Linked DNA regions of Homo sapiens: region 2 is linked to region 1. The links come from fine-mapping of genetic effects on gene expression. Tissue or cell type: testis. Region 1 holds a variant in brackets; the other region holds the start of a gene. All regions are shown on one strand. Distances are from middle to middle.

What was found.
Region 2: it holds the start of EDEM3, and the variant in region 1 is fine-mapped to the expression of EDEM3 in testis (GTEx, PIP 0.99).

What each region holds. Positions count from the first base shown.
Region 1 is chr1:184,705,315-184,721,531 of GRCh38, reverse strand. EDEM3 (ER degradation enhancing alpha-mannosidase like protein 3) reads left to right here. Exons shown (of 20, transcript NM_025191.4): 9 at 146-243; 10 at 1,964-2,089; 11 at 2,287-2,370; 12 at 3,909-3,992; 13 at 4,520-4,644; 14 at 8,934-9,099; 15 at 9,655-9,809; 16 at 10,985-11,138; 17 at 13,188-13,379; 18 at 14,724-14,889. Among named protein-coding and RNA genes, the nearest start is that of EDEM3, 41 kb to the left of the region's middle. The variant T/C (reference allele first, on the strand shown) is at 9,585.
Region 2 is chr1:184,746,297-184,762,513 of GRCh38, reverse strand. It overlaps EDEM3 (ER degradation enhancing alpha-mannosidase like protein 3), which reads left to right and starts at 7,656. Exons shown (of 20, transcript NM_025191.4): 1 at 7,656-8,025; 2 at 12,922-12,967. The coding sequence starts at 7,868. It overlaps LOC105371649 (a long non-coding RNA gene), which reads right to left and starts at 7,340. Exons shown (of 3, transcript XR_922357.4): 1 at 6,981-7,340; 2 at 4,415-4,490. RefSeq lists enhancers at 7,403-7,502, 7,973-8,072.

The DNA of each region.
Region 1 (16,217 bases):
TATCTGTTCCAGGGCAAATCTAAACTGGTGTAGTCATATATATGCACAATGTTAATTTAATGCTAATCTAAGGAGTGCTATTTTTTTAAAAAAATTTAACGGTTTTAAAAAAATTTAATGAAAAATCACATTTGTGTTTCCATAGATAGTGGAGTTGGAGCAGGGATTGATTCATATTATGAATATCTGTTGAAAGCCTATGTCTTGCTTGGAGATGACAGTTTTCTGGAAAGATTTAACACAGTAAGTTGATACAATTTTATATTTTATAATCAACTTCATTTGAGTCCAGATTTTTATAGAAACTCCATTACCTGAATGACATTGTAAAAATAATTTTTAAAATGTGTAGTGGTTTTGTGTCAGTATTTCCTGATGATGTTGAACAGGGACAGCGTAAAAAGTGATATACATTCCAAAAAATCAGTTGATAAAGTAGTTTTATTTTCACCTTTTATCAGAAACTTTGCAGATCTGCCAATAAGAGATGTAATAGATTTGAGTTTTACCTAATCTTGTTTGTACAAGGATAAGAATTATTGAAATATGTTACTAGTTAGCTTTTTCCTTTGTATTTCAATTCTTTTTGAAATCTTGGAAGTTTGGCTTAGTCTTTGATTACACCAAGGATACAGGGCTTTGAAGACCTGGAGAAACTAGTGAGTATTCATTTCAAAAGCAAGTCTTAAGACTGGTTCAGAACCACAAGCATGTTTTTTTGGGAAAAGTGGGAGGATTATTGAACCCAATTGAATCACCTTTTTAACTGAAGCAAACTGAAATGAATATAGCAAACTCATCAGTTATATCACTATATTCTTTTTAAACTAATCTACCATTTCCTTGCTCACCTATCAGTTCATCCATGTTGTATGTATGAGACAGTATGACATGGTGATTAAAAGTATGGAGGAGAATGGCGTGAACCCGGGAGGCGGAGCTTGCAGTGAGTCGAGATCGCGCCACTGCACTCCAGCCTGGGCGACAGAGCGAAACTCCGTCTCAAAAAAAAAAAAAAAAAAGTATGGGAGATGTACTGGTTTAAATTCTGATTGTACCACCTACGGGTTTTGTGACTTTGGGCAAGTAACTAATATTATTTGCCTCTGTTTCTCATCTACAGAATGGGAGTACTAGTACTATTTATAGGGTTATTGGGAGGATTGAGTTTATGCATTCAAAGTGATTAGAGCAGTGCCTTTAACCTATGGCCAATATTCAATAATAGTGATTAAATAATAGGTAAATTTGCAAAAAAAAAATTAGTAAAAGTTAATAAGTCATTAATTGAATACTTTCTAAAATTATCACATAGATTGTTTATTAGATTATAACAAGAATTTCTTGAGGTAAATGGGGACAAATAACTATTTTTGTTGGCTTGTTATCACAACTCAACCTTTTGTCAAAGCTGAGAAATATCTAGGAGAAGAAGACAAAAGAAGGGAAAAAGAGTTTTCTAAGACCATAATAAGCTGAGATAGCAAACCATAAGAGTGGCAGCAGTGATTAGCTGCATTAGTTTAGATAGTAGTGAGCACCAAAATATTGTTAGCCGAGAAGGGATCAAACTTCCAAGATACAGGAAAAAGCAAATTCTGTAATACAGAAGCTGATAGCTATATTACAAGGGGACCTATGAGCATCAGTGGGCCGCAAAGTCATACCAACCACGGGCTAACGCCACAGGGCATAGAGATGTTCAGTTCCATTTTTCTCAGAAGGTCCTATATTACAGATAGTCTTTAATAGTCTGCATGTGAGTTAGAGGACATAAAGGAGTACATATATATTTTAGAAAGATCTCCATCTAAAATAACTTAAATATTTATATAAATTGGTAGTTATTTAGTGAATTTATATATAAATTCTAGTTTAATTTATTCACAGTGCTATTTAATGTGTTTAGAGTAGTACCTCTTTTTTCATCTAACTTTCATGAACACATGTTGTGATCTTTTAGCACTATGATGCCATAATGAGGTATATTAGCCAGCCACCTCTTCTACTTGATGTGCATATCCACAAACCAATGCTGAATGCTCGGACTTGGATGGATGCTTTGCTTGCCTTCTTCCCAGGCTTGCAGGTATAAAGAATTCTGTCTTCTTAATATGAATGTAAGATGATGATGTTAATTAGGCGCATTTTTGATCTTTAAAACTGAACTACAAAACATAGTTGCAGTTCAGAATTGTATTTGTATACATTTTTCTGTTTATGTAATGATTAGAGATAAAATCAGCTCATATTTTATTAGGTAATTTTATTGTTGTTGATTTCTAGGTGTTAAAGGGGGATATTAGACCTGCTATTGAAACTCATGAAATGTTATATCAGGTGATTAAAAAACACAATTTTCTACCAGAGGTAAGCAAATAATTTTTGGAATAATCTTACACACACACAAACACACACACACACACACGTACACATATACACTATAAGTTGCTAATATAAAGGTAGAAAATGTCATCTTCAAGGCTTGTTGGTTCTTTTTATTTTTTTCCTATTAAATAGTTTATTTTTGGTTTGTACAGTATTATATATGTTTTTGCTTTTCTTTGTGTGTTAAGAGAAGTCTGATTTAGGGTAATGCTGACATTTTTAAAATTTTATGTAAAAAAATTCCCAGCTTAGTTCTTCTCAACTCTTCCTAACTTATGCCATTGTAATATTCTCTCATTCTAACTCTTGTATGTACCTACCAGCTAGGGAGATTTTGTCACTTTTTATTTTCTAAAGCTTGTCTTATGAAAACAGTATATATTAGATATACTTTTGTTGTTCACACATGCCCTCTGGAAATGTATAGAATGCCATCTCTTCCTCATGCTGATTGAGAATTATTCTTCCTGATTTTTATACATCATATTAGTAATAAATATTCTTGCTAGCTTAATATGACAAGATTTTAATAGCATACTTTTTGGCTTCCCAGAAATGTACCGTTAAAAATTTCCAAATGTGTGTATGGCCTTGTTCTATCCCCGCTTATTGACTACCCTCTGTGAGATATCTAAGCATTCTACCAACTTAGAAGGGTTCCTAAAGTGTTTGTTTTGGAAAGTATAGTTTTATTAGCCTTCGGGTGAGTAGGACTGTGCATTGTAGAAAATTCATATCCATACAGAATAAACTGAGGTTTCAATTAATACATCTATCACAAATGAAATTTTTATTTAGCTCCCATAAAAGTTTTTGTTTGCTTTTATTTTTATTTTCTTTTAAAAACCAATTGATTATGTTATTGAATAAATTTCAAATAGACTAATTTTATTTATTTCTAAATAATGCTCTGTCTTATTCCACAAAGGATTTGAGGCTTTTAGAAAATATAAGCTAAAATATGAAATATGTATGCTTACACATTGCTAAGAGAGATTTTAAGTATTCTCACCACAAAAAAAGAGAACTATGTGAGATAATGCATATGTTAATTAGCTTGATTTAGCCATTTCATAGTGTATAAATATATCAAAACATCATGTCATATACCATAAATATATGTCACTTTTATTTGTCGATTTAAAAAATTTAAAAATAAATATGAGAACTAGGAGAGTAATAATCCAGAGGAAAAAGTAGAGGGAAGGATAAAAAGAAAACACAATTATGTTTACCACCAGGACCCATGTAGTGGCATTGCTGAGTTTCATTATGGAGTTTTTCTGAGTTTTCTAATAGCCAGAATGATCACTGAAAAAATAATCAATTTAATTGGTAAAAATAGCAGCCTTTGCAAAATGAATTGTTATTTTAAGCAATGAAAATTGATGTTTTATTGATGAAAATGTCCTGATTGCTATTTTAATTGCTTTTACCTATTTATATATATTCTATATATTCTGGAACTACTTGTGTATTTAATCACATTTTTTATGCCTTTTGTATGTTGTTTTGTTCAGGCATTTACCACAGATTTCAGAGTACACTGGGCTCAACATCCTTTAAGGCCAGAATTTGCAGAAAGTACCTACTTCTTATATAAAGTAAGAAAATATACCCCATTTTACTTAAAGTTTAGCCTCCATTCTCTGTTGGATCTCTCATTCTTTCATAATAGTAATTGGGTTTTCAGAGTCCCCTTTTAATATTATAATGATTGGATATATCATGATTCTTATTCATCTAGTCCATAGAATTATTGAATGATGCAAGAATTGACATGCAAGGTTTTTTTCTTTAAAAAATATTATGTAAACATTTCTTTAAAGAGAAATTTTATGTTCTAGAGCTGCTTTCTAAAGCATGTCTCTTGCCTTTCTTCAGGCAGCCTTTCTGAGCATTAGAAATTTAAAAACTAAGGTTATATAGTTAAATTTTATAATTGTGTATTTAAGAAATTCTGTAAAGCAGATTCATAGCTTTTTTTCAGAACTCAGTTCTATATAATGTCCTTCAGTGCCTGATACAGTGCCTGGCACCTAGTAGGTACTCAATAAATATTTGGTAAATGAATGGATATGTGGTAATATATAAGCTATATATATTATACATATATTCTCCTTTTTAATAGGCTACAGGAGATCCTTACTACCTTGAAGTAGGGAAGACACTTATTGAAAATTTAAATAAATATGCTAGAGTGCCTTGCGGATTTGCTGCCATGAAGGATGTTCGTACTGGAAGTCATGAGGACAGGTAAAACAATTGCTAACATCCTCTTTCCTCAGGGTCTCTCTGAAACAACACAAAATGCAGCTACCATTTAGGATTCAAATAAGTTTAATTCTTTTACAAAGGATAGAAACCTTTGTTCCTTGTGTTTACTTTTTTAAACTCTGTTGAATACACTAATTTTAATTTGTTTGAAAAGTTTGTATTTTTATCATAGTGCCTGGCATATAGTAGGTGCTCAAATGATTTTTAAATAAATGAATCGATGATTGTTAAATATCAGAACCTTGGTGTTAGGACTATCTAAAATGTGGCTTTTTTTCTTCTTTGATAATAGTTTCCTTTTATATTACATAAGACATTAGAAATTACCAAGATGAGGAATGATCTGGAATGTGATTTGTGTTCGGCCAAGAATTCCTCAAAAGCTGTGTGTACTTACACCGTTGCTGACTTGCAGGAGTGGGAAAGACCAGTGGTAGTTTCTGTTTCATTAGACACTGGATAGATGTAGATGGTATGAAGTATTCAAGCTATAAAAAGTGCTCCACATGAAATTCACAAGCATTCTCCTTATTCTAAGATCACTTATCTGGTTATCACATCTCTAAATGAATGCTGAAGCTTATTTGTTCATTTGGTTAGCAAATGTTCATTCCAGAAATATTTACTGAGGCCCCTTATGTGCCAGGGCTCTTACTAGTTTTTGAGGATTAAAGATATGAAGATAAGTCCTTTCTGTCTTTGAATCACTGAAGGCAGGCCAATAAGCAGACTTTTAAAACATTGTATATGTGTTTGAAACATATTAAAGGGGCATGAAGCACAAGTTGGGATGTGATAGTCAGCGAAGGGTTCCTGAAGGCTCCTATGTCCTGAAGGATAACCAAGAATTAGAAGAAGAAAGATGTAAAAGAAGTTCCAGGCAGTGAGACTGAAGACATGAGAAACACAGCACTCATCATCTACCCATAGAGTTGTCCCTTAGTTCTTCACTTAGTGTTCGGATAATGGTTAATTAGGCTTCGAATCTCCATCCCTAACCACAGCTAATGAGAAATGGTTAGGTTCTGGAAGCAGGCATACAAGTAATAGCAAGAAATAAAAGCAGATACCTTGTGTATTTATTTGCCTGTAACATTTATTGACTGTTTCCTATACTCCAGACAGTCTTCTAAGCATTTTATGTGTTTAACTAATTTGATCCTTACAACAGCTTTCTGAAGTGTACTATTACAGTCTTCATTTTAAAGGTGAAGAAACCAAGGGAAAGAGAAGTTAGGGAACTTGCCTAAGGTCACACAGTTAGTAAGATTAAGTCAGAATTCTAATCTAGGCAGATTGGCTCTTGACAATGATGTTATACTGGCAATTCATTAAAGAACAATAATTAAACACCTACTGTATGCCAGCCACTGCACTTAAGTGTGGGGTAGAAAGATAAAATAGAACCAGTCCCTGCACTCCCATGACTTGTAGTTAGTGAATAAGATAGGTGTGTAAAGAAATAATCACAACCATGTGATATGTTCTAAAATACAAAAGAGGTAACAAGTTGAAGAATTGCAGAGGAAGACATGATTTACTGTTCAGAATTCTATTTTTCAAAGTGTAACATCCTTCTTTTTTTCCCCACCAAATACTCCTTTTATGACATTGTTTCTGGACCTCTTACCACTGACATTGCCCCATTCTGATTGCATTCCAGTATATATAATAACTCTTAAAATATCACATCCAGAATTAACCATACTCAAGATGTGTCTGGCACACAGCACCATAACTGTCTGTATTCAGGCAAAGGGTCACTAATGTTCTATGAGGCTGATGAGTTTCCACCCTCTATCCAGTTGAGGACCACTGCTTCATTGACTCACTGTTCCTGAGGGGATTGTTGTGCCTCTCAGATGTCTTTAGCCAAATGAAAGGTTAAGAACTACCATTCTTCATCATATTGTGTTATTAGATGTGCTTTAGATTTTTTAGGAGCTTTATTATGTTCAGCTCACAGTGAGCTTGTGATCAACTAGTTTCACATACTTAACTGTATGGTCTGCTGACAAATGAGTGTTCTCCACCCTGCCTTTGAGCAGCCAAGTTTTCTTTTTTTTAGTGTAAACTTAGAACTTTTATATTTAACTCAGCAAAATTTCTTTTTTTGTTTTGTTTCTAGATTTTGGTCTAGAGGTTGAATCTCATTAGCTAAACTACCAGTTTTCAATGATCTATAGTTTAGATGAGCATACCTTACATTTTTTTCATCCAAACTGTTAGGAAGAAGTTTTGGTTGGACCCCAACCAGTGCCTTGTGGCACTGCACTCAAGAGCTTTCAGTTACAGGCTCTTTGCATGTGGTGGTTTATTACCCTATAGATCTAAGCACTATCACTGTCCTCCAGGTTACCATCATCTACACAGACACAGACATACACACACACTTTTCACAATGGAAATATCTGTATTTTCCTAATCATAATTACTGAAAAGAATGTAAATGGCAAAAATAATAGGAAAATATTTGCTAAGACACTGTCCCCTAACTGCGTAAGATTACCACTGTTAGCAATTTTATAAAGGCTTCCAGACATTTTTAATGCCTGTGTATTTTTATTTATGTATTTTTATGATTTTAAAATATAAAATAGATCATATGATCTGATGTTCAACTTGCTAGCTTTGCCCAATTCATATTGTAGTTATCTTACCATGCCTTGTTCTTTTCTAAATGTTTACAAATTGTCTATTCTAGTATTTGCCAATTATCAGTATCCTGCTCATCTGTCTGCAGTTCTCAAGATAGCATTTGCTCATGTAATAACTGTCAGTCCATCAGAAAAGGTTGAATTATGATAAGTGTATTGCAGATAAACAGGAAAGTGTTTTTATATTGTCTAAAAAGATTAATATCCAAAATGGCTAAACATGTTTTGAAACATTTCAGGTGAGTTTTTGTTCCAAAATAAAAAATCATGTGTATGTAGGAAAAATGATAGCTGTAGTTTCAATCTCATATGTATGCCAAGTGCTATGCTAAATAATTGACATTTAATATCTCAGTCTTCACACCAATGTCATGAGTGTATTGTTATATTCCTTTTACAGAAGAATAAACTGAAGCTCATAGTCCTTATATAATATCCCCATGGTGACAGAACTAATTAGTGGAAGATCTTTCTATTTCCAAAGCCCATGTTCTTTACTTCTTTGTTCTACTCCCTCTCCAGCTCATTCTTTAATCACGCTGTTTAAACTTGCATTTAATTTAGTAAACATTTATTGAGTGCCTACTGTGTGCCAGGAATTGTGCTTGGCCAGAGGTATGAAATTGTGCAACTTGTCCAGTAAACTAGAAGTTGTTTATTACTGCCAAAACCTATGATGCTTTGGGGAGTAGTGAATTAAATTTGATGTTACTATGACTCCATCTACCAGCTATGCTTTTTTCCTGACACTTTTAATTTAAACTTTTCTTAAATTGTTAAAACATTATAACATTAAATCATTTGTAAAAACACATATAGTTTTACTGTCTTTATTTCTCCACATTCCCTTCTTAACAGGTAAATAAATATTTAGCATGTTATAATCATAGCCCGTGTGACTTTGCATTGTACTTTTTTCATGTAACTATTTTTTTCTTTTTTTGAGTCGGAGTCTTGCTCTGTCACCCAGGCTGGAGTGCAGTGACACTGCACTCGGCTCACTGCAATCTCCATCTCCTGGGTTCAAGTGATTCTCCTGCTGCAGCCTCCTGAGTAGCTGGTATTACAGGTGCCTGGCACGACACCCGGCTAATTTTTGTATTTTTAGTAGAGACGGGGTTTCACCATGTTGGCCAGGAAATTACATGCAAGTAATTTCTTTACATTTAAAGCCTTCTTTTTAAATCACTTAAATAGCTACATAATAAATTCCGTCAAATTTGTATGACTTTTTCCAGCTCTCTAATTTAATGGAAGATTCTTATATGATTCTCACTAGTAAAATTTATCAGTTACCTCCCTGCTGTTGATTCTCTATAGAAGAAATGGAGAACTTTCCCTCATTGAAAGGCCTATAGAAAAATCTTGTCTGCATTATTCACAAGATTCAGTGTATCAGTGTGGTAGACAACTCCTCTGGTCTTTTTCATTAACATAGAATATACTTGGAGTCAAGGTTATTCTGCCCCTGGTAGATTGATACATTCTATAGTTCTTTGAACATCTAAGTTGGTATAGACAGGATTATTAACCTTGACTCTATGGCTTTCATATAGTTGGCATTTAAATTATTTTTATCTACTTATATTTATTTGTGACTTTTTATTTTAGAATGGATTCTTTCTTCTTGGCTGAAATGTTTAAATATCTTTACCTGTTATTTGCTGATAAAGAAGACATTATTTTTGACATAGAAGATTACATCTTTACAACAGAAGCTCATCTGTTACCTCTTTGGCTCTCTACTACAAATCAAAGCATCTCTAAAAAGAACACAGTGAGTTTTTAAATGAAATGTCTTATTCTCTTTTTTATTTCTACATGTTTTATTTTTCCAAGTGAAAAGTAATCCATGAGTAGAATTCAATAAATATATGTATGGTAAGAATAAATATATACATTTTCCTATTTTTTTTCTTTTATTGCATCCTGTATACACTTATATATTTCATTAACTGTTTCCTTTTAAAAATTATGTTGAGTAGGCCAGGTGCGGTGGCTCATGCCTGTAGTCCCAGCACTCTGGGAGGCCCAGGTAGGTGGATCACAAGGTCAGGAGATTGAGACCATCCTGGCTAACATGGTGAAACCCCGTCTCTACTAAATATACAAAAAATTAGCTGGGCGTGGTAGTGGGCGCCTGTAGTCCCAGCTACTCGGAAGGCTGAGGCAGGAGAATGGCATGAACCCAGGAGATGGAGCTTACAGTGAGCAGAGATTACGCCACTGCACTGCAGCCTGGGCAACAGAGTGAGACTCCAT[T/C]TCAAAAAAAAAAAAATTATGTTAAGTAAAATAATTATTTCTGTTTACATAAAATGTTTTTCTCTTGTAGACCTCGGAATATACAGAACTGGATGACAGTAACTTCGATTGGACTTGTCCAAATACTCAGATCCTCTTTCCTAATGACCCATTGTATGCTCAAAGTATTCGTGAGCCCTTGAAAAATGTGGTGGATAAGAGCTGTCCTAGAGGCATCATCAGAGTGTAAGATGTATTATTTTATATTTTCTAATATCAAAGTTGTTTCTTAGTAAATGACAGAGAACTTAGGGAGCATGTATCAACAGCCAAGAAGACATTCACATAGGCCGAAAATGTTGAGGTATGTAGCTATCACTGGTTAAAATAAAAATTAGTAGTAAAGTTAGATAGTAAAGCTTATTTTGCAGTAATATCTTTTTTATTATTTTGGAAACTTTCAATATATCTTTTATTTTATGAACTAAGGTAATAATAGTGGGCAGCATGTAACAGTTTTTAACTTCTATAACTCATTTTTCATGGAATAGTTTCATCGAATATTTTCTGGCCAGGCATGATAGCTCACGCCTGTAATCTGAGGACACTGGGAGGCCAAGGCAGGTGGATCACCTGAGGTCAGGAGTTCGAGACCAGCCTGGCCAATATAGTGAAACTCTGTCTGTACTAAAAATACAAAAAATTAGCCAGGCATGGTGGCAGGCACCTGTAATCCCAGCTACTCGGGAAGCTGAGGCAGTAGAATCGCTTGAACCCAGGAGGTGGAGGTTGCGGTGAGCCAAGATCACGCCATTGCACTCCAGTCTGGGTGACAAGAGCGAAACTCCATCTCAAAAAAAAAAAATTTCCTTTTGTCTATAGTTTCTGTGTAGTGAAAATACAGGTATTTTGTTTGTTTGTTTGGATTTGATTTTTTGAGGGAGTACTTATTCTTGCTTGTTAAAATTGGCTTAATGAGTTCATTTTCTGACGAGTAGTTATATTAGGCCATTGCAAGGACTTTTTAAAAATTATTTTTACATAAGTGTTATTATTCACTGATGCAAGTATTGATTTGCTTTTAAAATATTGGGAGAAAAATCTGTGTTTTTAAAGGATAACATCAATAGTAACAAATCCCCAAGCAAACTTGTTCTGTACCTTTAAATAGTTATAGTTCTCTTGACTAATACTGCCTTATATAGATAATATACAAACTTTTATAACTAGAAAATGTTATATTTGAAAGCTATACCACTTGTTAACCTAAATTATATGTAAGAAAATACTTTCTAGTTATTCCAGTTTCACTAGTTCTAAAACTAGCAATTTTGCAAGTAACATTATTTTTATTTGACATGTGTTTTTTGCCAATTCTAATTTATAGTTTTTTAAGCCTTGCCTGTAATTACTTTTAGCAGAGAGGAGAGTTTCAGGAGTGGAGCTAAACCCCCTCTGAGAGCCAGAGATTTCATGGCCACTAACCCTGAGCATTTAGAAATCCTGAAGAAGATGGGGGTGAGTTTGATTCACCTCAAAGATGGGAGAGTCCAGTTGGTCCAACATGCAATCCAAGTAAGACATTGCTACACTAATTAGATACCGTCTCTGCCCTGCTTTCTTTGGTCGCATTAGCTTTAATAAGATAATGGATTTCAACTTTCTAAACACTTTAAATATACTGTTTAAAGTGAGAGAATGAGAATTTTAGGACTTGGAAGTATCTTGGAAAGTCACCTAATTCAACTCCTTTATAGTATAAATCAATTAAATAAATCAGAGCTAGGTTGGGTAATTTGCTGAAGTTAATATAATCAAATGCAGGACTCAAATCTAAGTTTTCTGTTTCTCAGTCCATTGGCTTTCCCCTGTTACTTTTATTTACAACATAACTTCAAAAACTAGTAATTAGTTTTAATATTCATATCTCCATGTTTTACATCATTTTAGTCTCCAAAGAGCTACTGAATCTTAAGTATTTTGTTCATCATAGGTATTTATTTGTCTGTGCCTAGGAAAAATAACATGTCTTTTTGAGAAATTTTTATTGATTTTTACTTTGAAAGTTTTTATAACACAAAGTTTTTAAATTATTTACCTTATTAGTATATTGATTCTGAGAAAACCACATAGTTTGCTGAATAATTTTTAACCTAGAACCATATTCAGGTATCCTTTAATCTCAAATTCAACCCTCCCACAACTTCATCACACCCTCAAGTTTTCATCTCATCCATATTCTTGCCACATCCTTCCTTCTTTTAAGAGTATTCTTCCTTCTTCCTTGTATTTTATTTGGCCTCAGTGGGAGTGACATCTCTTGTGACATTGCTTTTACTTACTTAGGCTGCCAATGGCATAATTACTGCCAAGTGGCCTCTTGATCCTTATATGATTTAACTTTTCTGTAACTATTGGCTGAACCCTTCATAAAACATTTTCCCTTTTTGGCTTCCCAGGATATTTCAGAAACAAAGTTCTTTTTCTACTTCACTGTTTATTGCTTTGTAGCTCTCCTTGGCACAACCACTCAATGTAAACAGTTTCCAAGAATCTGGATGATATTCTTTTCTCTATATACTCTTCTTCAACAGTGTCACCTATTTCTACAAGCTTAGCTATCATTTTTATACATATGACTTCTTAGCTATGTATGTGAATCCTGATTCCTAAATTTACTATTAAATTCAACTTTCATCTACCTCTCATACATCTTGCATCTCAATCTCAATCTGTCCAAACTTGAATTATCTCTTTCTTGTTTACTCTCTTTCTACCCTCACCTCAACCTATGTTTCCTTCTTTGGCTCTCCATGTCAGTAAAACCTATCATCATTCTTTAAGTCATCAAAGCTGGAAATTTCAGGATAGGTTTGAACTCTTCTTCTCTTCCAGTTCCTCTTATCCTTTTCCATCCTCTAACTTCTATCATGTCTTGTTGGTTTTTCCTGTAAAGTATCAGGAATCATCTTATTTTTTTCTATTATAGTCATTCTTCAACTTTCCCTCTGTTAAGACTCAATTCAAGTGTCATTCTAAATCTTTCCCAGGTACACACAAGCAGAATCAATTGTTCCCTCATCTGTGCTCCTTTTCCACTTTCCCACTTGAGAAATTTTATCATAGCTAACTTTACATGTCTTTCTCCTCCAGACACAAATTTCTTAAAGGACTGTCTCTCCAATGCCTAGGCAAGTGCTGAGATGGAATAAGTGCTTCACAGATATGTTTTGAATCAAATTGAATCTGGTTGTTCACTATTTCAAGGAGGGAAAGTGTGGGTCAGGTATGAGGTTTATTTCTTCAGAGGGAAAGCCAGTGGGGAGAATAAGCAAAGTGAGCATTTGAGCATTCGCTAGAAGTCCAGTTCTCAATCTGAATCAAAAGTGGTTTATAGAATAGCGAAAGTGACATTGATAAAAAATACGGATAAGTTATTTTCAGAAATACTATTTCTGAAAGTATTATTTTTGAGTACAAATAAGGTCATAAATACTTGGTGGTGACCTAAAGTGAAAGAAGAAGTTGTAGAGTAGAATACTACAGTACAGTGTCTTTAGGAAATCAAAAAATTGGTGGAAGTTTCCAGAAAGGAAGGATAAAATGAATTTGTTTTTTTCATAGGCTGCTAGTTCAATCGACGCTGAAGATGGGTTGAGGTTCATGCAGGAGATGATTGAATTGTCAAGTCAGCAACAAAAAGAACAGCAGCTGCCTCCACGAGCTGTACAAATTGTTTCCCACCCATTTTTTGGCAGGGTAGTATTGACTGCTGGACCAGCTCAGTTTGGGCTGGATCTGTCTAAACATAAAGAGGTATGTATACTTAAAATATAGTTGTTGAAACTGAATTTAAAATATTAAGTATTGCCTTATTTCTTAGTCTCTTCTCTAATTTAGTAGTTTTAATTTATTTAAAAAACTGAAATAGTCAATCTCCTGGATTTAAGTAAAGTAAAAGCATGTCTTGAAAACTTTGAGTCATAATTTATGTATATAATATGCTTACAGAATTTTAACTAAAATATTATTCAGGTTCTATTCAATTTCTTGGTCTCTTCTCTAATTTAATACCTGTAATTGATCTAAAAATGGTTTTCAGACTTTCTAAGAGCCACTAGAACCTTTCTTTGAACAAAAGTCTAAACCAGGAGCTTAATGTAGAAAACAGCTAAAAGCACAGAAGCTCTGGCTCAAGTGACTGGAGAAAGCCTGGGACCCTGAGGTTCCACTGGGCAAACTTTGAAGATCATTTAGCTAGTCCATCCTCTATAGTTGTAACATAGTTATAACGTAGAAAACAAAGACTTACATAACTAAGCAATTCACAAAGTTATCTAACTAATTGATTGCAGAGCTGGGACCAGAGCCCAAGTATCGTGACAATCTAAAGCCAATGCTCTTTTCACTCTATTACTGCTAATTTAGACTTTTTTCTCATGTATATTTTAAACTATGTAGAAGCTATATAGATTGATTGATTCATTCAACTGTTGATTGAGTGCCTACTATATTCTGTGCACTGCTTGCTGTATCAGTTTACAAAACCAATGAAGATCCATGCCCTTATGGAATTTACATTTTAGTAGAGTGAAGGATATTAAAACATCTTTATAGTAACGTGTTTAAAAAAATTAGTTCCTTGGTGGATTTAATTTTTTTGGTAAAAAGAACTGCTTGCAGATTCATATAGACTAAGTCCATTTTTTCCCCTTTCAAAAACTTTTCTTGTTACCAATGATCATTTCAAATTAGTTCCCAGCTATTGTAAATGTAGTGAATCTGCCTGCAGGTCCCAACTTTACTGCTTAGTAACATCGTGTTAACATTGTGAGCAAATTACGTAACCTGAGTCTCAATTTCCCCATATGTGAAAGGGAAATGTTATTTGTATTGTTTTGCTCAGGGTCATTATAAATAACAGATTTTGTAGTTTATATAAAAATGTTCTATAAACTGCAAAGCACACTAGAAATATTGGTTGAGTACTGTGATATGCAAAATGTTTAAAACAATATTTTATGGTGACTATATGTTAGATACGTTATCATTAGAAAAGAAATGAGTTCTAGTTCTTTTAAAACTCTAGATATTGAGGTTTAATGACTTGATTGCCATTTGAGAAGATTAAAGTATTTAAGTTGCTTTTATTTCTGACAGACAAGAGGATTTGTTGCAAGCAGTAAACCATCCAATGGTTGTTCAGAGCTTACTAACCCAGAGGCAGTGATGGGAAAAATCGCACTGATACAAAGAGGACAGTGCATGTTTGCAGAAAAGGCACGCAACATCCAGAATGCTGGAGCCATTGGTGGCATTGTTATTGGTAAGTAATCATCCATGTCATTGTGTTGACTGAAGGGGAGATAATTTTTAGGATTTTTTCCCTTTTATTTTCTAAAATTTTATCAAAGAGTTTGTCATAGTTTTTTTTACCTCACCTAGACAACAAGGATAGGTAATCCAATGACTTTTAATTTCTAGATATCTAACATCTTTTTTAAAAGTCTAGATTTGAATTTCTGTATATTAATGTCAGTGAAAATACTTGGGTTTAGGTGTGAGGGTGAGGTAGGGCTGAGTAGTAAAAAAATTCAGTACCATGGATAAGAAAAGGTGCCCATGAGATCCATAACCCCCGAAGGGCAAGAATTACACTGTGCCACGTCCAGTGGGGAGCCATTGAAAATTTCCATTACTCCACAAAGATGCAGGCTTTGGAGGCAGACACATGAGAGTACAGTTCCTGGCTCTACCACAAAATTGCAGTGTAACCTTGGCCTAGCTTCAGTTTTTTAATCTGTAGATTAAATAGTATAATTTTTTTTTATTTGATAGTAGAATATTTTTGAGCTCCAGTGGAAGTGATAATAAATATATTTTAGGTGATTGTAAGGTTTAAAGATATATAAAATTTCTTGGCATAATAGCAGACATAGGATAAGTGCTACTATAACAGGGTTTACAGTATTGCTAGCAGATCTTTATCCCCTTGGATCTTTTTCTACCGAAATGACAAGTTACCACCTTTAAATCATCTTACCTATATGTATCAACTAGTGGGTTTTGCTTTTTTATCTTTCATAGACAATCACTTATATCATGATAAACAGGCCATGACTATTAGGGGAAATATAAATTTTTCTGTTTTAAAGTAAATAGGAGTTTACATTCAGAAAGAACTGTAAGACCTGGGCTCACAATATGCTGATTGTGAGTTCTTTTGTACAGCTTCTCTCACAGGGAAATCCATTTTGGATTCCCCCCTCCCCTGCCGCCCAATAGTTAAGGTAAATAAAAAAAAATAGTTCAGGTAAAACAGAATATTAACACTTATTATGTTGATTTAATGGATGCATAAATTTTATTAATAAACATTAGGAGAAGTCCTGTTTAATGACTTAAATCAGCAGTTGGCAAACTACAAGACTATAGGCCAAATCCAGCTCATTGCCCATTTTTGTAAATAAAAGTTTTATTGGGACACAGTCATGCCAATTTGTTTGTGTATGGTCTATGACTGCTTTGAACTGCAGTGATGGAGTTGAGTACTTACAGGAGAGAACTACAAAGCCTGAAATATTTATTCATCATCTAGCCAGTTACAGAAGAGATTTGCCGACCCCTGACTTAAATCATGCTCTTTATCCTTGG
Region 2 (16,217 bases), 41 kb before region 1:
TGGTTTAATTGTTATGAAATTGTTGGGAAATAATTTTCACCCCAACTCCTATAATTTGACTACTACGTCTGTCTATCTACTAAAAACAAGCCAGTAGTTTTGCATGATTAAACTGTAATAGTTATTTTACTCTTTTAAACCACTAATCTGATTCTACATCTGGAACCTCTGCTCACTTCTCTTGGCCATATGAACTGAGAAAAACAAAACCAAACCTGAATCTTAGAGAAACAGACTTCCATAAAATGGTAACTAGCAGATCTAAATGTAGAACCCAAGTCAGCTGATTCAAAGTTCAATGTTCAGGAATAGGCACAAAGCAAATGTGTGTGTGTTTATGTGTGTGTGTGCACGCACACGCATATGCATGCAGAATGAATTGGAGTAGGAAGGAAGAGGAAGTGATGTGAAGTGATGCAGAGAAAAACCAGGAGAAAACATTAAACATTAGAGTGGGGGCCTTGGGAACCCAGAGATTGCGCTAAAATTGGGTGCAAGTCTCCCAAAAAGGGCTAGGAAGGCTCTGAAGATTATATTTGCTTAAGAGCTACTTCTGTAAATAATAATGTCTATTAATCTCTAGCAATGGATGAAAAATAGTACATTTTGTGCACAATGAAACTATACTTGCCTCATCATCTAGTGCCAAGAAAAATATGGTGATCTTCAAGAAAGCCGTGTATCTAACACCACTCTCTCAAAGTTTTAAGTATAATCATGTATTTGAAGGTTGTATACTGATTTTAAAGTATCACAAAGAGATTGATCTGCAAATAAACCAAGAACTCTTTATTCTACTTCTCATCCATCACAAACCTTTACTACCCCCACTTATTACCTAAAAGCCCTACCTGTAAAAAATCAAGCAAAAAACAATCCCAACCAAAAAAACTCCAAACTTATCAATACATTTGGAGAAGAAACAGAAATAAGCACTGTTTTCATAGAACTTTAAGCTGGAGGCCAGGAAATATTTAATTTCAAATATTTAAGGACTGTCAGCATTTACCTCTGAGGTTAAGAAATGCTGGGGATTGACAAATTTGGACCACTCTGAGGATTACAAGAACAGGAAGAAAGGGTGAAAAGACAGTACTACAAGTATGTGTATACAAATACATACATGTGCAATATATGTATATTGTATATGTGTATATATTTATATATACTCATATACAAAACATATATGTATATGTATGCAAAGGGAGCTCCTAGGAAGAACACAGGGTTTGGATAACAATTCTAGGAAGAATGTCGGATTTGGATAATGAGAAATGATAGGATCATTACAGAAATAACTTATTTTTAATTCTTAAGTGTCCTAATGTTGGGGATTACTCTACCTAATGCTTTTTGACAAGATCAACTGGGCACCTTTCACTTTGATCCTTAATTTCATAATTAGATAACCAGTAAAACTATCTTTCTAAATCCCTTGGAGGTTGGAGGTAAGATGAGCTTTTACAAAAACAAAGTAAAACTGAAGAAAGTCACACAAACAAAAAAGCTGCAAAGATTTTCTGACAACTTTATTCCAGAACGTTTATAACTTCAAATGTCTTACAAATGAAGCCATTATTAATTTTAAGAGGACAGAAAAGTACCTTGTGTTTTTGTGCGTATTTACTCTAATACAGGGATGAGGCGCTATAGCTCATACAAACTGTGCCTGAATTCAACAGTCTCTGGAGTTGCTGGCCTAAAGAGGGCTACATTTTTGGATGGGGAGCCTGCAATGGCAGCACGAAGTAAGCAAGCAAAGGAAGTAGACAAGATTCAGGGCTGGGGCCAGGCATGGTGGCTCATACCTGTAATCCTAGCACTTTGGGAGGCGGAAGTGGGAGGATCGCTTGAGTCCAGGATCTCAAGACCAACCTGGGCAACATGGTGAGACCCTGTCTCTCTTTCTCTCTGTTTTTAAAAAAATAATAATTAAAAAAGAAAAAAAGATTCAGGGCTGAAAATAAAACCAGAGCCATGGGTGCTGTTGGAGCAGCTGCACTCACCCTTGAATCCTACTCTCAACAATGGCGATGTTTTCTCTTTACCTCATAATCATGATATGGATACCTACTATTTATTGAGTTCCTTCAAACTGTACTAAATATTTTACACACACCATCTCATTATCTTCACAACATCCCTAAAAGGAAGGCATAACAATTAAACCATTTAATCTTTCTAAAAATGCTGTGAGGTAGGTATTATTCTTATTCTCATTTTACAAATGAGGAAACAAAAGCACAGAGATTTAGTCATTTGCTTAAGGAAGCCCAGCCAATAATCAGCAGAGCTGTCTCAGAGCCATTGTTCTTGGCCTGAATGGTACCTGTGCAACTGTTGTTGAATGGTGCTCACCTAAATCCTGTGGCCACACTGTACCAATAAGTGGGAACTATGCTGATGGTGAAATGGGGATTTAAGAGAGGGAACAAACACAAAATGTACTCCCTCGAAGAGCCATGTGACTTGGTTTTGCTTCTGATACTTGAAGTAAATGGAAAATGGCCACTAAATAAGTGACCCAACCAAATAATCATGACACATGAGCAAACTTTCTTGCCTGAGAGAGTTGGAGCTAGTGCCAGTGAGAGAAATGGGATAATAATCTGAAGGTGAAGTGATTTTGAAGATCTCAAATCAAGATGGAGAGGTGGAAAAAGCCCTGGGGACATCTTTTGGGGAGGTGAATCATCTGAATCTCTCATTCTCTTTCTTAGAATTTGAAAAAATCAGTCCGACAGCCACGCAGGAAGTCAGTTGACGACATTCACCGAGTATCTTTGTCATGAGGTGCTCTTTCTAAGGCCTCAAAGTCACTAATTGTGAATGCAGAATAATTACTGTCTTTATTTAATGTTTGCAAGATTGGGTTCTCTAGAAGAAAACTGTTGTCAATTCTGCATGCTATCAAAGAATAGGAAAAGCAATTTGAAGAATGACAAAATCACCACTCCCAAATTCCATACTAGTTTCAGGAGTAATTAGAACTGTAGTACTAAAGAATTCAAATCATTTAGGGGCAACTGCTGTTCTATGACCAGTTTTGCACAGCTGGTCCCAGCTTCCTAGGACTATTTCTGAGCCATAATATTAAAATGGAGCCCCTCCCTGTGTTTTTGAATCCATATGGTTCTACCCAGGGCTCCTATCCCTCCCTAACTTCTGACACATCCAAGCAGGAAAGTGAGCATGCATATTTACATAAGCTACAAGGCTGTGCAAACAGATTGTTAACTGGTTAAAGGGCATTTTAGAAATGGCTGTTATTTCTTACCATTTTTAATGGGTTTTATACATAAAAAATCTTTATATCTTTAAAAGTTCTATCCTTATTCTTCTGATGTGCTTTCCACCAGTCTTTTTCCCTCTGTACAACACTAGACTCTCTCAATTAACTCGTACATCCTTTTTATCACTAAGTGTATAGGTTTTAAAATAACGTAAGTGAATTTTTCCTAGTGTTCATAAAGTGCCAATTAGCTGAGAATTTCCATTATTTTCATTACGGGGTTAAATACGTTTTGTTCTGTTTTGTTTTGTTTTTGTTTTTGTTTTTTTTTTGAGACAGGGTTTTGCTCTTGTCACCCAGACTAGAGTGCAATGACATGATCTTGGCTCACTGCAACCTCCGCCTCCTGGGTTCAAGCGATTCTCCTGCCTCAGCCTCCCAAGTAGCTGGGATTACAGAAGCCTGCCACCACACCCGGCTAATTTTTGTATTTTTAGTACAGACAGGGTTTCATGATGTTGGCCAGGCTAGTTTCGAACTCCTGACTTCAGGTGATCCGCCCACCTCGGCCTCCCAAAGTGCTGGGATTACAGGTGTGAGCCACTGCACCCAGCAAAAAAAAAAAGTGTTCTTTTTTGAAATGCATTTTGCGAATATATTTTTCTTTTATTTCCATGGGCTCCACCTTTGATAAGTTTTAGAGCTTTTAGGTCACACTAGATTTTCTACTTAAGGTTGCTGAGATCAGTGAAAAATAGACTCAATCATTGGCTAGAAATTGAGTTTCAACAAGGGAAAAAAAGATACTTATTATTTAGCAGTTCGAAAAAGAATTATGTTCTGGCTTCCCATTATAATCTTTAAATATGCAGCGTTAACTTGAAAACAAACAAATATGCTAGAAAATGTTAAACATTAAAAGCCAGTACTTCTTCTTTAGTATGTTCTTAATGATAGTTCATAGTCAATTTTGACTTCTTATAAAGGGTTGGAACATCAGGAAGGTAAAGAAAACTGTGTTATTGTTAATAATCCACTTCAAATTATTGACTTGACTATATTTCCATATAACTGAATGTCACTGTTTTTCTATTTTATTTGTTCTTAGTTTTCAAATACCATATGATTGGTGTTGACCTTTAGTTTGTAATGTTCTCTATGCAAGAGCCAAGACCAACTCACATGTATTGATTTAGCTAACTTCATTACCAAGGCTGCCAAAGAGGATCCAGGATGAAACCAATGTTGGATTGCAGATCTGTCCAAAGAAAGGATAATATTAAATATTGTACAGAAGTGACCTCATGTGTTTTCATAGCATCTATGTAAGTAGATAAAAGGACTATATTATTCCCACTTTTTAGATAAGGAAACTGAAGGAATACAAAAACAAGTATATTCAACATTTACTGAGCATCTACAGCAGGAGAGGCACAGTGCTAGGTGTTTCAGAATATCCTTATGCTATAATTTGAGTGTGTCCCTCAGAATATCTGTGTTGGAAATGTGGTCCCTGGTATGGTGATCTGGGGAGATGGGGCCTTTAAGAGGTGATTAAGAGGGATTAATGCTGCTCTCTCCGGTCTGGGTTACTTCTTGCTAGAGTGGGTTCTTATTCTCTCAGGACTGGATTAGTCACCGCCAGAATGGGTTGTTATGCAGAGAGGCTGCCCCTCGTGTTTCACCTCTTTCACACGTGCCTGCTTTTCCACCATGTCATGATGCAGCACGAGGCACTCGTCAGAAGCCAACCAGATGCCGGTGCCGGGTTTTTGGATTTCCCAGTCCAGAATCGTAAGAAATAAATTACTTTTCTTTATAAATTACCCACTTTCAGGTATTCCATTATAGCAACAGAGAACGGACTAAGACAACCTACAAATAAGCTAAAGTCAATACTTTTCATGTGGTTAAAATGTAGTGGGTATGCAGACTATGAAAAACACAATAACAAAGACACAGAATACCATGGAGGCACAGAGAGAGGATAACTTCTGCTAACTAGAAGGTTCTGGAAGGGTTTTGTGGAAATGGAATCTGAGCCCAGCCTTAACAGGTGTTGAGTGTTGTACAAAGATGATGGGGTAGCATAGGAGATGGTGTGAGCAAAGGCATGGAAAGGATACAGAATAGGAATTATTTAGTTATCACATAGGATTTGAGGGCAGGGCAGACTAGAAGGAAGAAAGAAGGTATTCAGAGGGTTTGCAGATGTTCTTGAATACCAATTCTGACAGCCATGTATAGAGGAGAGTAGGGCAGCAGGGAGATAATCGGTAACTTCAACATTAATGCTGCCAAAGAGGACTAGGATGGAACCAATGTAGGATTGGAGATCCATGCAAAAAAATAAAGGATATTAAATATTGTACAGAAATGACTTCATGTGTTTTCACAGCATCCACGTTAGTAGATAAAAGCAAGGATCCCCAAGCCTGGGGCAGTGGACTGGTACCAGTCAGTTGCCTCTCAGGAGCAGCAGGCGAGCAAGCATTACCACCTGAGCTCCACCTCCTGTCAGATCAACTGCGTCAGAGTCTCATAGGAGCATGAACCCTATTGTGCACTGCACATGCGAGGGATCTAGGTTGCACGCTCCTTATGAGAATCTAATACCTGAAGATCTGAGATGGAACGGTGTCTCCCCCACCCTGTGGAAAAATTGCCTTCCACAAAAGTGGTCCCTGGTGCCAAAAAAGTTGGGGACTACTGGATAAAAGGACCATATTATTCCCACTTTATAGATAAGAAAACTGCAGGAATAAGGAAGCAAGTATATTTAACATTTATTGAGACACTGCAATAGTTTAGGAGAGAGGTAATGGAAGCTTGAATGGAGCAAAAGTGGGAATAGAAAGAAAGGTAATAATCTGAAAGATAGAAGAGGTAAAATCTATATAATTTGGTAATTAATTGCACGTGGACCCCGAAGGCTAAAGATGAGTTGACAATGATTCCGATGCATTAATTTGAATCAGAAAACATCTTACGTTTGAGCTACCCTTGGGCTAGACATTAGGACATTTCTATTAGGGAGGTGGAAATGTGGGTCTAATGATCAGGACAGATATTGATTTAGAAATCAACCACAGAGATATGTTGGCTGAATCCTTATGAGAAGAAATCACCAAGGAATAATTAGAGTACAGAGAGAAAAAGGACAAAAAGAAAACCTTAAGGGAACACCTGTATTTTAATATAAAGTAGCGAGAGAATGAAGGAAAACGGGTCAGCCAGAGAAGAGGTAAGAGGTTAAGAGGTAAGAGGTAAGGTGATAAAAGTCAAGGAAGAAACGTTTCCAGAAAGACCGCCGAATACTGCTTAAAGGACACGTAAGTAATTTACTGTGGTCACAGAGATCACATCGAAGCTCCTAAACTCCGCACCTATTGAATGACCACACTAGAAAAACAATGTGGTTTTTCAAGAGGAACCGATGTGTCATTTTACCAATAGTTAACCTGGGACTCGGTCATCAAAATTCATTGCAAGTTCCAATCTCCTTCATTAAACCTTCTTTGCAGCCCACACAGCTCTCCTTACATTGAGCTTTTGAGGTAACTATTATTAATCATGTACGAGGACCCACGTGCTCCTTCATCCTTGTAGTACTGCGCGGTGGTTAAATGCAAGGGCTTCCGAATCAGAGGCTGGATGGATTCTAATACAGCAGTGTGACGAGCTCTTGTTAACCAACTTTTCTAAGCCTCTGTTTTCTCGTCTGCAAAAGGGGGATGGTGGTACTTACTCTATCAGAGTTGAGAAGAGTGCATGAGATGATTGCGAGTAAAAACCTTAGCGCAATGCCTTCAAAGGCTCAATTCATTTTGCTGTTACTGTGTTTTGGAATTTCCCTGAGGGTAGACGACTACTCCAACACTATTCCCTAACGCAGCAGCACTGACATGGGGACAGTGCGCCTCATTCAGCCAGCTCTCTGGGAAACAACTTTCTGAGGAAGAGAGATAAACAGCTGACGGGTTTCCCGGGACTCCGCAGCCCACCGAGACAGGGTTGACTGTAGGGCGCCGAGGAAAGGGGGAGGTGGGATCCCAGCAACCACTGGCGACCTCGGAGGACCGCAAGTCCCAGGGTGCAGCGCGCCTACCCCGGGTAGAAGCGAGAGACACGGCTCCGAGTCGGCTCGCGGGAGAGCCGGGGAAGAAGCAGTGCACACTGGGACTGGTAGTCCTCAGGGGGCAACTCCGCGGGTCGGAGGCGGGTCGAAGCGAGAGATCCCTTCCCAGTCCCGCCTTTTGTCCACGTCTCACTTCTCCTGGCCAATGCCCTCTCCAGTCGCCGGAGACAGCCCCTCTCCCATGAGGTCTCCATTGGTCCTGAGGCTCTACGGCTTCGGCCCTACCCGGAAGTAACGTTGGGGAGGCGGTTTCCTAGACTACGACACCGGAAAGCTGGGGGAGGCGCTCCGGGATACTGAGGGCGGAGGGCGGTGGCAGCGCTGGCGCTGGGGACCGGCTTGGTGGCTTCGGGAAACAGTTTGGCGCCGGCGGCCGTCCGTGTTACTCCGCATCCCGCCCCGTCTCGGCACGGCTAGCAGCCCCCTGGCCACCAGCGTCCAGCAATGTGTCTCACCGGCCGGGCGTAGCAGCTGCGCGTGCGCGGAACCGCGGGGCCATGAGCGAAGCCGGCGGCCGGGGCTGTGGGTCCCCGGTTCCCCAGCGAGCGCGATGGAGACTAGTGGCGGCGACGGCCGCGTTCTGCCTGGTGTCGGCCACCTCCGTGTGGACGGCGGGGGCCGAGCCCATGAGTAGGGAGGAGAAACAGAAGCTTGGGTAAGGGTGCTGGCAGCCTGGGGTGGGTTTCTCGGTGAGGCTGACAACAGGAGGGGTGCCTGTCATTGCGACCCGGTCGCGTAGTGGCCTCTCCTGTCGCGATTGGAACGGCTCTTCCCGCGCGAGAACCCTAGAGGGGTGGACAGGGTCCGGGGAGGTGGGAACCGCCGCCCGCGACCTGACCTCGGGGGAGCTGACGGGGTGTCGCCCTGGCCGCCGGTGACATGTGCAGGCTCCTTGAAGCCAGGCGCGGTGTGTCAACGCGGCTGCCATGTCAGTGGCCCAAGAAGGGGGCTACAGCCCGCATCGCTGCGCGCTGGAGTTCTGCGGTTGGCTGCCTGTCGACCGAAGCATGGTTAGCTTTCTCGCGCAAGTGAGCTTCCAACTGGGAAAATGTTGCTGATCTCACAGTAGTTAAGGAAATGATGTTTACACCTGTTACGGAAAAGGGGGCGTTCATTGGAACTTGAACTTTACACATTTTACTATTTCCTTGCAGTGTTTTCTTGCACTGTATTTTCATAATAGAATGTTTGGGGGGAAATTATTCAAAAGTCTCAAGTATACCTATTCAGTAGTTTTTATCCGTCTTGGAAGTGTGTTAAAATTATCAATTCTATTTACACCATTTAATTCAGAGTAATACATACACGAGGTCCTACACATGAATAAGAAAAAAGCGAAGAACCAGTAGGAAATGGGAGAAAGGCATGAACGGTTAAGCCAGAAGAGGAAATGGAAGTGGTAAATAAACATGAAAAGTTACTCAACCTCCATAAACGTAGGAGATGCAGATTAAAACGAGGAGCTAGCTGGTTTTTGCCCATCAGATTAGTAAATATAATACAAAACACAAGGATACGGTTCTGGTTAGTTAAGGAATAGAAAAAAAAGGCTTAGTGAGAGTGTAAATTGCTGTAACTTATTGGTAGTATCTACTAAAATTTAAATTGTGCACACTTTGATTCATCAGTTCTATTTCTGAGAATCTACCCTAAGAAAATAAAAGCACTCTTAATGCAGAGATAGATCCAGCCTGGGCAACAAGAGCGAAACTCTGTCTCGAAAAAAAAAAAAAAAAGTGCATTTTGAAAGAACAGCTCTTCCTTGGAGGAAATGGTTCAATAGGGTACGTTCATATTATGGAATAATATTGAGACATTAAGAAGAAGGAAGTACGTCACTGGAAGCCTATCCAGAATATATTTCCAAAACAAAAAAAAATGCAAGTTGTAGAATAATATGTATAGTATCATCCCATGTTTTTTTTAAAAAAGAAAAAAAAAATCTGAGCTCAGAAAAAAAGTGGAACGAAGATTATCTCATGGGGTTAGGCTGGAGGGGTGGTGGAACCATCAGGTCTTACTTTATGTACTTTAAATCATTGCAAAGAGTCTTGTATTCGTTTCTAAATAGCAATAAAGGTCACTTGATGGAAAAAAGCTGAAGTATCAACCATCAAAATAAAATTACCGGTAAACTCTAATAAATATCTTACATTTTCTCTCATATGAATTTAATGTATCATTGATAAGTTTTACCAAATATCTCACTCTGTGAATACTTTACATATGTTATCTCTGTACTCCTTCCTATTTCCCAATGAATATGATCCACATTTGCAAATGAGGAAGTTGAGACCCAAGGTTGACTTGTTCAGCCACAAAGCTAGTAATTGGTAGAGCCAGCATTCAAACCCAAGCCTGTCTGATCCCAGAGCCAGGCTCTCTCCAGTATGTTGCACGTTCATTAGACTTGGAAGAGAAGTATCAAGTCTGTTAAGAACCACAAGAATCTTATTTGACTATCACTACCCTTTCTTCATTTTTTATTAAAAACTTATTTGTAAAAGAGTCATTGGATAAATCATTTTTGACCAAAATTAGTTTTTAACTGGAAAAGTTCAACCAAATTGGCTTGAAATTTCAGCTCAAATTTTGAGATCATTTATGAAAGTGAAATTACAATTATTTAGGCTTGTTAGATTGCTCTACCCTTGAGTAAGGGTAGGGTAAGAATCTAGAGCTATAAACGACAAATACACAATTATATGACTGCTTTCTCTGGGAATTTTCAGAAAACTGAACTTTGATTCATTAGGTTTACCTGTGCATTTTTTAAAGCCCAAATAATGATTCATGATAAAAAGCAGAAAATGCCCCACCCCTTTCCCTCCCCACCAACAAACCAAATAGTTGATAAAGACTGGAATTGTCATGAATAGTAAGCAATTGCTCAATAACTTACACTTTGTGGAATTACTTAGCTGGTTATATGTAGTCTTATCCTTCATGGAATAAGCTTTTTGGTTTTGTTTTTAAAATTTTGCAACAGGGTATTTTGTTAATGTTATGTTTTCATTAAAAAATGAAGTAGAAAACAATCCAGTTTCTATAGCACGTGGGCAGGAGACGTAACTTTAGAAAAAGCCGACTTGGCCTGGCATGGTGGCTCATGCCTGTAATCCCAGCACTTTGGGAGGCTGAGGCGGGCGAATCACCTGAGGTCGGGAGTTCGAGACCAGCCTGACCAACATGGAGAAACCCCTTCTCTACTAAAAACACAAAATTAGCCAGGTGTGGTGGCGCATGCCCTTAATCCCAGCTACTCGGGAGGCTGAGGCAGGAAGAATCGCTTGAACCTGGAGGCGAAGGTTGCAGCGAGCAGAGATCGTGCCATTGCACTCCAGCCCGGGCAACAAGAGCAAAACTCTGTCTCAAAAAAAGAGAAAAAGCCGACTTACAGAAATTACTGAAGAGTGGTGTAATTTTTGAACTGGGTCTGATTTCCAATACATTTTAATCCAGTTTTTGAATAGATAAAACATTATGGAAATTTTTTTTTCTGTTCAGTATAGTAATTATTATACCATTCTGTATTTAAATGTGACTTTGTTAGGCTTCTATGTGTAAGAGCAATGATATTAAATAGCTCCACTTTGAAATATGTGTTCTAAAATTTGCTCATCATATGCTGCATAAATGTAAGGATTGGAAAATAGTGTATTCTCCTTGTATGCAATCATGATTTACTTACAGTCTTGAAAATTGAATGCTTGTAAAGTTGAGTTAGCAAGTTAAAGCTTATGTCATTTGTAATATACATGTCTAGGCACTACCATTGCCAATTATAGGAATTTCTACTTCTTGGTAATAATCTCGTATTCCATTTCAGGGAAGGAAAAAAAAGAGGACTTCCATCTTCCATTCATTGATATGAGTTCCTGAAAGGGACATTTTAAACTTTTTTTTTTCTGCTTAGGACAGGATAAGAGTCTAGAGCTGTAAACCACAAATATAAAAATTATATATATATAAACATATATATATATGTAAACTTACAAAGAATTAGTGCTTTAGCAAAGTGGTGGTAAGGTCTTTTTTTAAATAATGAAATGTTTTTAAGTGGTTATTATTCATATGTTGTCAGGACTTAATTCGTTCACAAGTTTGAGTGTACTTGATTTTGTTGGTGTTCATAGTCAGGATCTGGAACTGAGGTCTTTTCTGTTTGCTAGCTCTATTATTACCAGTATTTCATAATCTGTGATTATAGTTTTAAAAATGACAATTGCAGTATAACAGGAGGCAAATAAAAATATAGTCAGCAATTTCTTTAACACTTTTTTCAATTCTTGCCATCAGTGATTGGAACTTTGGTAAAAGAAAAGTTAATAGGCCGGGCGTGGTAACTCACACCTGTAATCCCAGCACTTTGGGAGGCTGAGGCGGGTGGATCACATGAGGTCAGGAGTTCGAGACCAGCCTGGCCAACGTGGTAAAACCCTGTCTCTACTGAAAATGCAAAAATTAGCCAGGCATGGTGGCAGACGCCTGTAATCCCAGCTACTCGGGAGGCTGAGGCAGGAGAATCGCTTGAACCTGGGAGGTGAAGGTTGCAGTGAGCTGAGATCGTGCCACTGCACTCTAGCCTAGGTGTGACAGAGTGAGACCCTGTCTCAAAAAAAAAAGAAAAAGTTAATAAAAAATTGTTAAGCTGTGTTTTCCTTTGCTAATTATTTGGCCTTGTCTGGTCATACAATTAACTTGTACTTTTTCCTGTAGTCCTCAAGTCCCTGAACTTGAGAGTGCTTAATTGAAAGGCTGCTTCCTCAGTCGCAACCTTACAGGTTTTGATTTAGTAAAATTCTGGTGTAGTGATCAGACATCTCCATTTTAAACAGTGGTTACGGAGATTTTGTGAAACAGAATTCGCCAAAACACACAACTCTCTTTTTGAGCATTAGTTTTCTCATTTTGGAAGTGAATACTATTTATTTGATTTTTGACAGTTTTTTTAGAGTAGAGCACATCATAAAAAGTATCTTTTGAAAATATGACAAACATTAATAAATATGTACTTAAACTAGGCATTAGTGGTTTATTCAATGTAAGTGCAAAGGCAGAGGCTTCATAAAGCGTTGTTATTTCATGTCACTACACACCTGTGTACCTCTCTCTTAGTAGAACATATAGGGGAAGCAATAAATGGCAATAATAATGGTTTTTTTAAAGGGCTGTCCAGCAAAACCCCCGCTTCAAGACAGATACGTTAAATAATTGTGTTAAGAGGTCATTGTTTTTCTGCATCAGATTTCCTTCTCTGATGATGGCATCTATCATTCATCAGTTTTCTTAGGAAAAATTATAAGATGAATTGTACATAAATTACTAGTAATCATTAAAGTTTGGCTCAGCTCTGTGTGGTGAGTTCATGAAAGCTTGTCTGCTAGCTGTTGTAGTTTCTGATTCTGTTTATGTCCCTTTCTACCTAAATTTTTCTTTTGTTTTTATTGGTATATTTTTTATGAGGAAGAATTAACTTTTTGAAAGATAATAAATAGAATATACTTACCTTTTTTTTTTTTTTTTTCCATTTCTGCTCTTTTAAAATTAGGAATCAAGTACTGGAAATGTTTGATCATGCTTATGGTAACTATATGGTAAGTAGGAAGCTTATCTTTACCTACCATTTATGTGAGTTGATTATTATGTGAGCACAGTCAACTGGGAATTTTGAAACCTACAATACAATTACATTTTTTAAAAGGAAGTTTTTAAAAAACAGGGCAAAAATAGTCTTTCTGGTAGTGGTTTTTAGGGAACCAGTTTATTGAACAGATAAGAATAAATTGAAATTAGATTATGAAACTTCATTATTTAAACAGCTTCCTTGGGTGCCATCAACAATTATCATTGAGTGCTTTATATAGCTAGATATTGTGGATATATACATGAAGATGTTATCTCTGGTCTTAAGGGAGATTATTCTCTTAATTTAAAAAAATGTTTACAATATTTATACACTGAAGAAAACCATTGCTTAAAAGAGAAATTGTTACTTAGCCTCTGTCCTAATTGTATCCTCATGGACTCTGCACTGAATATATTTTGCTTTTTAGTTTGCTGATTCATATTATTTAAAAATGTTTTAGGGCTCACTTAAGATTAAATAGCAGTTTCAGTTTTACAAGATGAAAAGTTCTGGAGATCTGTTGTGCAACAACGTAGATGAAATAGCAAATTCTGGAATTCAAAAAAAATTTTGCACATAAATTGTAATTTGAAAAGAGTTTAAGCATATTATCCTGAAACTTATCCCTTATAACCTTGTTTTTACATTTTAAAATATGTCAGCAGATTTTCTTCTATGATTACAACGTATAAAATGTAGTTGGGAAAGTTTGGCAGAGGACTAGCTTTAGTTCTGCTTAAAATATTTTTCAACTGATTCTGTGAATCCATTTTTTATCATATATTAACCAAATATCTTCATACACTAACATCATTGTTATCTATGAACATCTAAATATATGTAATTTATGCATTTTTAGTTTTAAAACATGTTTTATATTTGACAGTCCTCGTTCTCTTTTATATTGTAAATTTGGAGAGAGCACATTTTGAGTTCTTAATGTTTTTAGGATATGATTTTTTTTGGATACATTTCAACATTAAAAACACAGTTTCAAATTTATTTCTCAAGACCTCAGTCATTCCCTTAATGTTTTTTTTGTTTTTTGTTTTTTGTTTTTTTTTTTGAGACGGAGTTGTGCTCTGTCGCCCAGGCTGTGGAGTATAGCGGCACTATCTCAGCTCACTGCAGCCACCACCTCCCAGGTTCAAGTGATTCTCCTGCCTCAGCCTCCTGAGTAGCTGGGATTACAGGTGTGTGCCACCATGCCTGGCTAATTTTTGTATTTTTGGTAGAGATGGGGTTTCACCATGTTGGCCAGGCTGGTCTCGAACTTCTGACTTCAAGTGATCTGCCCACCTCTGCCTCCCAAAGTGTTGGGATTACAGGTGTGAGCCATTACACCCGTTCTGTTTTTTAATTAATTTTTTTTTGTCACCCACATGTCAACCCTTATTTCTTTCAAAATCATTTATCCCTGGTTAATTCAGTTTGGGCAAAGCATAATTTAACAAATCTAGGCTAATGATTTTGAGATGGCCAAGTGGTTCCATCCTATACCCTCAGACCTTAGCCATCTCATAAATGCGTACTGATGAATGCAGTTCCAAAGTTAAATAAAATAGCATATAGCTGGATAAGTTCAGTTTCTCACAATGAATAGGATCATCTCTTTATAAAGCATGGTATCTTTAATATCTTGTTCTTTTTAGGTAGAACAGTTATATCAATGGCAGAAAGTTATATCAATACATTTTTTCTAACTATAGAATACACTTAGTAGGTTTGTGACAGTGCAGGTACTGAGGGCAGCTTTCAGAGGACTTTCTGGCCTGTGCCTATTGGGACCTAACTGAGTAACTTTCTGCTACAATTAACTACTTAATAAGATTTAAGAGAGAAGGATTTCAGCTTCAAAGACTGGGAACTCTTGAAAGTAACATTGTCTTATATATTTCCAGTGGGACCATACGTGTCCACTGTAATATGTATTTTAAAATGTTCAACTATTTTACAATGTGAGTGACTCTTGCTGTGTACTTCTTCTATATTCAATCTGTGTGAGGTCTGTAACCCAAGATTTAGTCTAGAATTTACACTTCCTCTTTTCAAGTTCTCAACTAACATGACACAGTTCTAAAATATTAACGAGAATACAGTTGCCTTGTATTTGTTATTTGAAGTCAGTTGGAAATTTTTTTCCGGTCCCTACACTCAGAAACACTTTTAGCTTTCTGTAGGGTAAAAGTGTATAGGTTTTGGAGTTAGAAGGGCTTGAGTTCAAATCCTGTCTCAGCTATTTACAGGTTGGACCCTAAACAGGTTATTTAACCCATCTGAGCAGTGTCTTTCTATGTAAAATGAGAATAATTGCAAAGAGTTATTGTAGACTATAGATTTTTTTTTAAAGAACAGGAACCAATTTCTTTAATTTTTAATACATTCACCTTTTTTATATGTCTTGTGCCTGGTACATAAATGCTTAGCAAATTTTTTTGAAAGAACTGAATTGAATTCTTGTGAAGATGAAGTAAAATAATGTTTTTTTTTTTTTGCATTTGATCATTGTGATATATCTTTGTGTTTAAATGCAAAGAAATAATAAACTTAATTAAAAATACAAGTTTAAGGTGAATTTCAGGGCCTGTAAGTCATTTACTTTTTTGTAGTCAGTTGCCTACTATCCTAAAATATAAAATGCCTGGTACATGGCAGGCTTTTAATAAATGTTGAAAGTTTTTCCTCATTTCTCACTAGTTCTTTCTAATACTACTCTCCAGTCTGGTCTACAGTAGAACAATTCCTTTAACCTTCTTGCTTCCCAGGAAAGCAGTGGTGTTTTCCAAAGACAAGCAATATAGTATTATTAAGAGCAAGAACTCTGGACTTGGAGCAGGACACCCTGAGATGGCTCTGCCACCTCTCATCTGGGTTACAATGGGAAAGTTACCTAGTCTTCCTGAGCCTGTTTCTTCATCTCTGCAAAATGAAGACAATGGTTTGCCAGCCTCACAATGTTGTTAGAAGGATTAAGCAAGTTAATATAATGAAAGTGCTTAGAACTAATATCTGGCAAATAGGAAGCATGATGTAAGAATTTACTGCTGCTACTGATAACGACTACTACTATCATTATTATTTATTTCCTGCCTAAATTGAAATTGCCCTCCTAAAATCCACTTAGCCTGTAACTCAGAACTTGTTCTCCAGATAGTACATAGAACTTGCTTAAAGCGCATACATTCTTTCCTGTTCTTGGCATGTGCCCTTTGAACTTA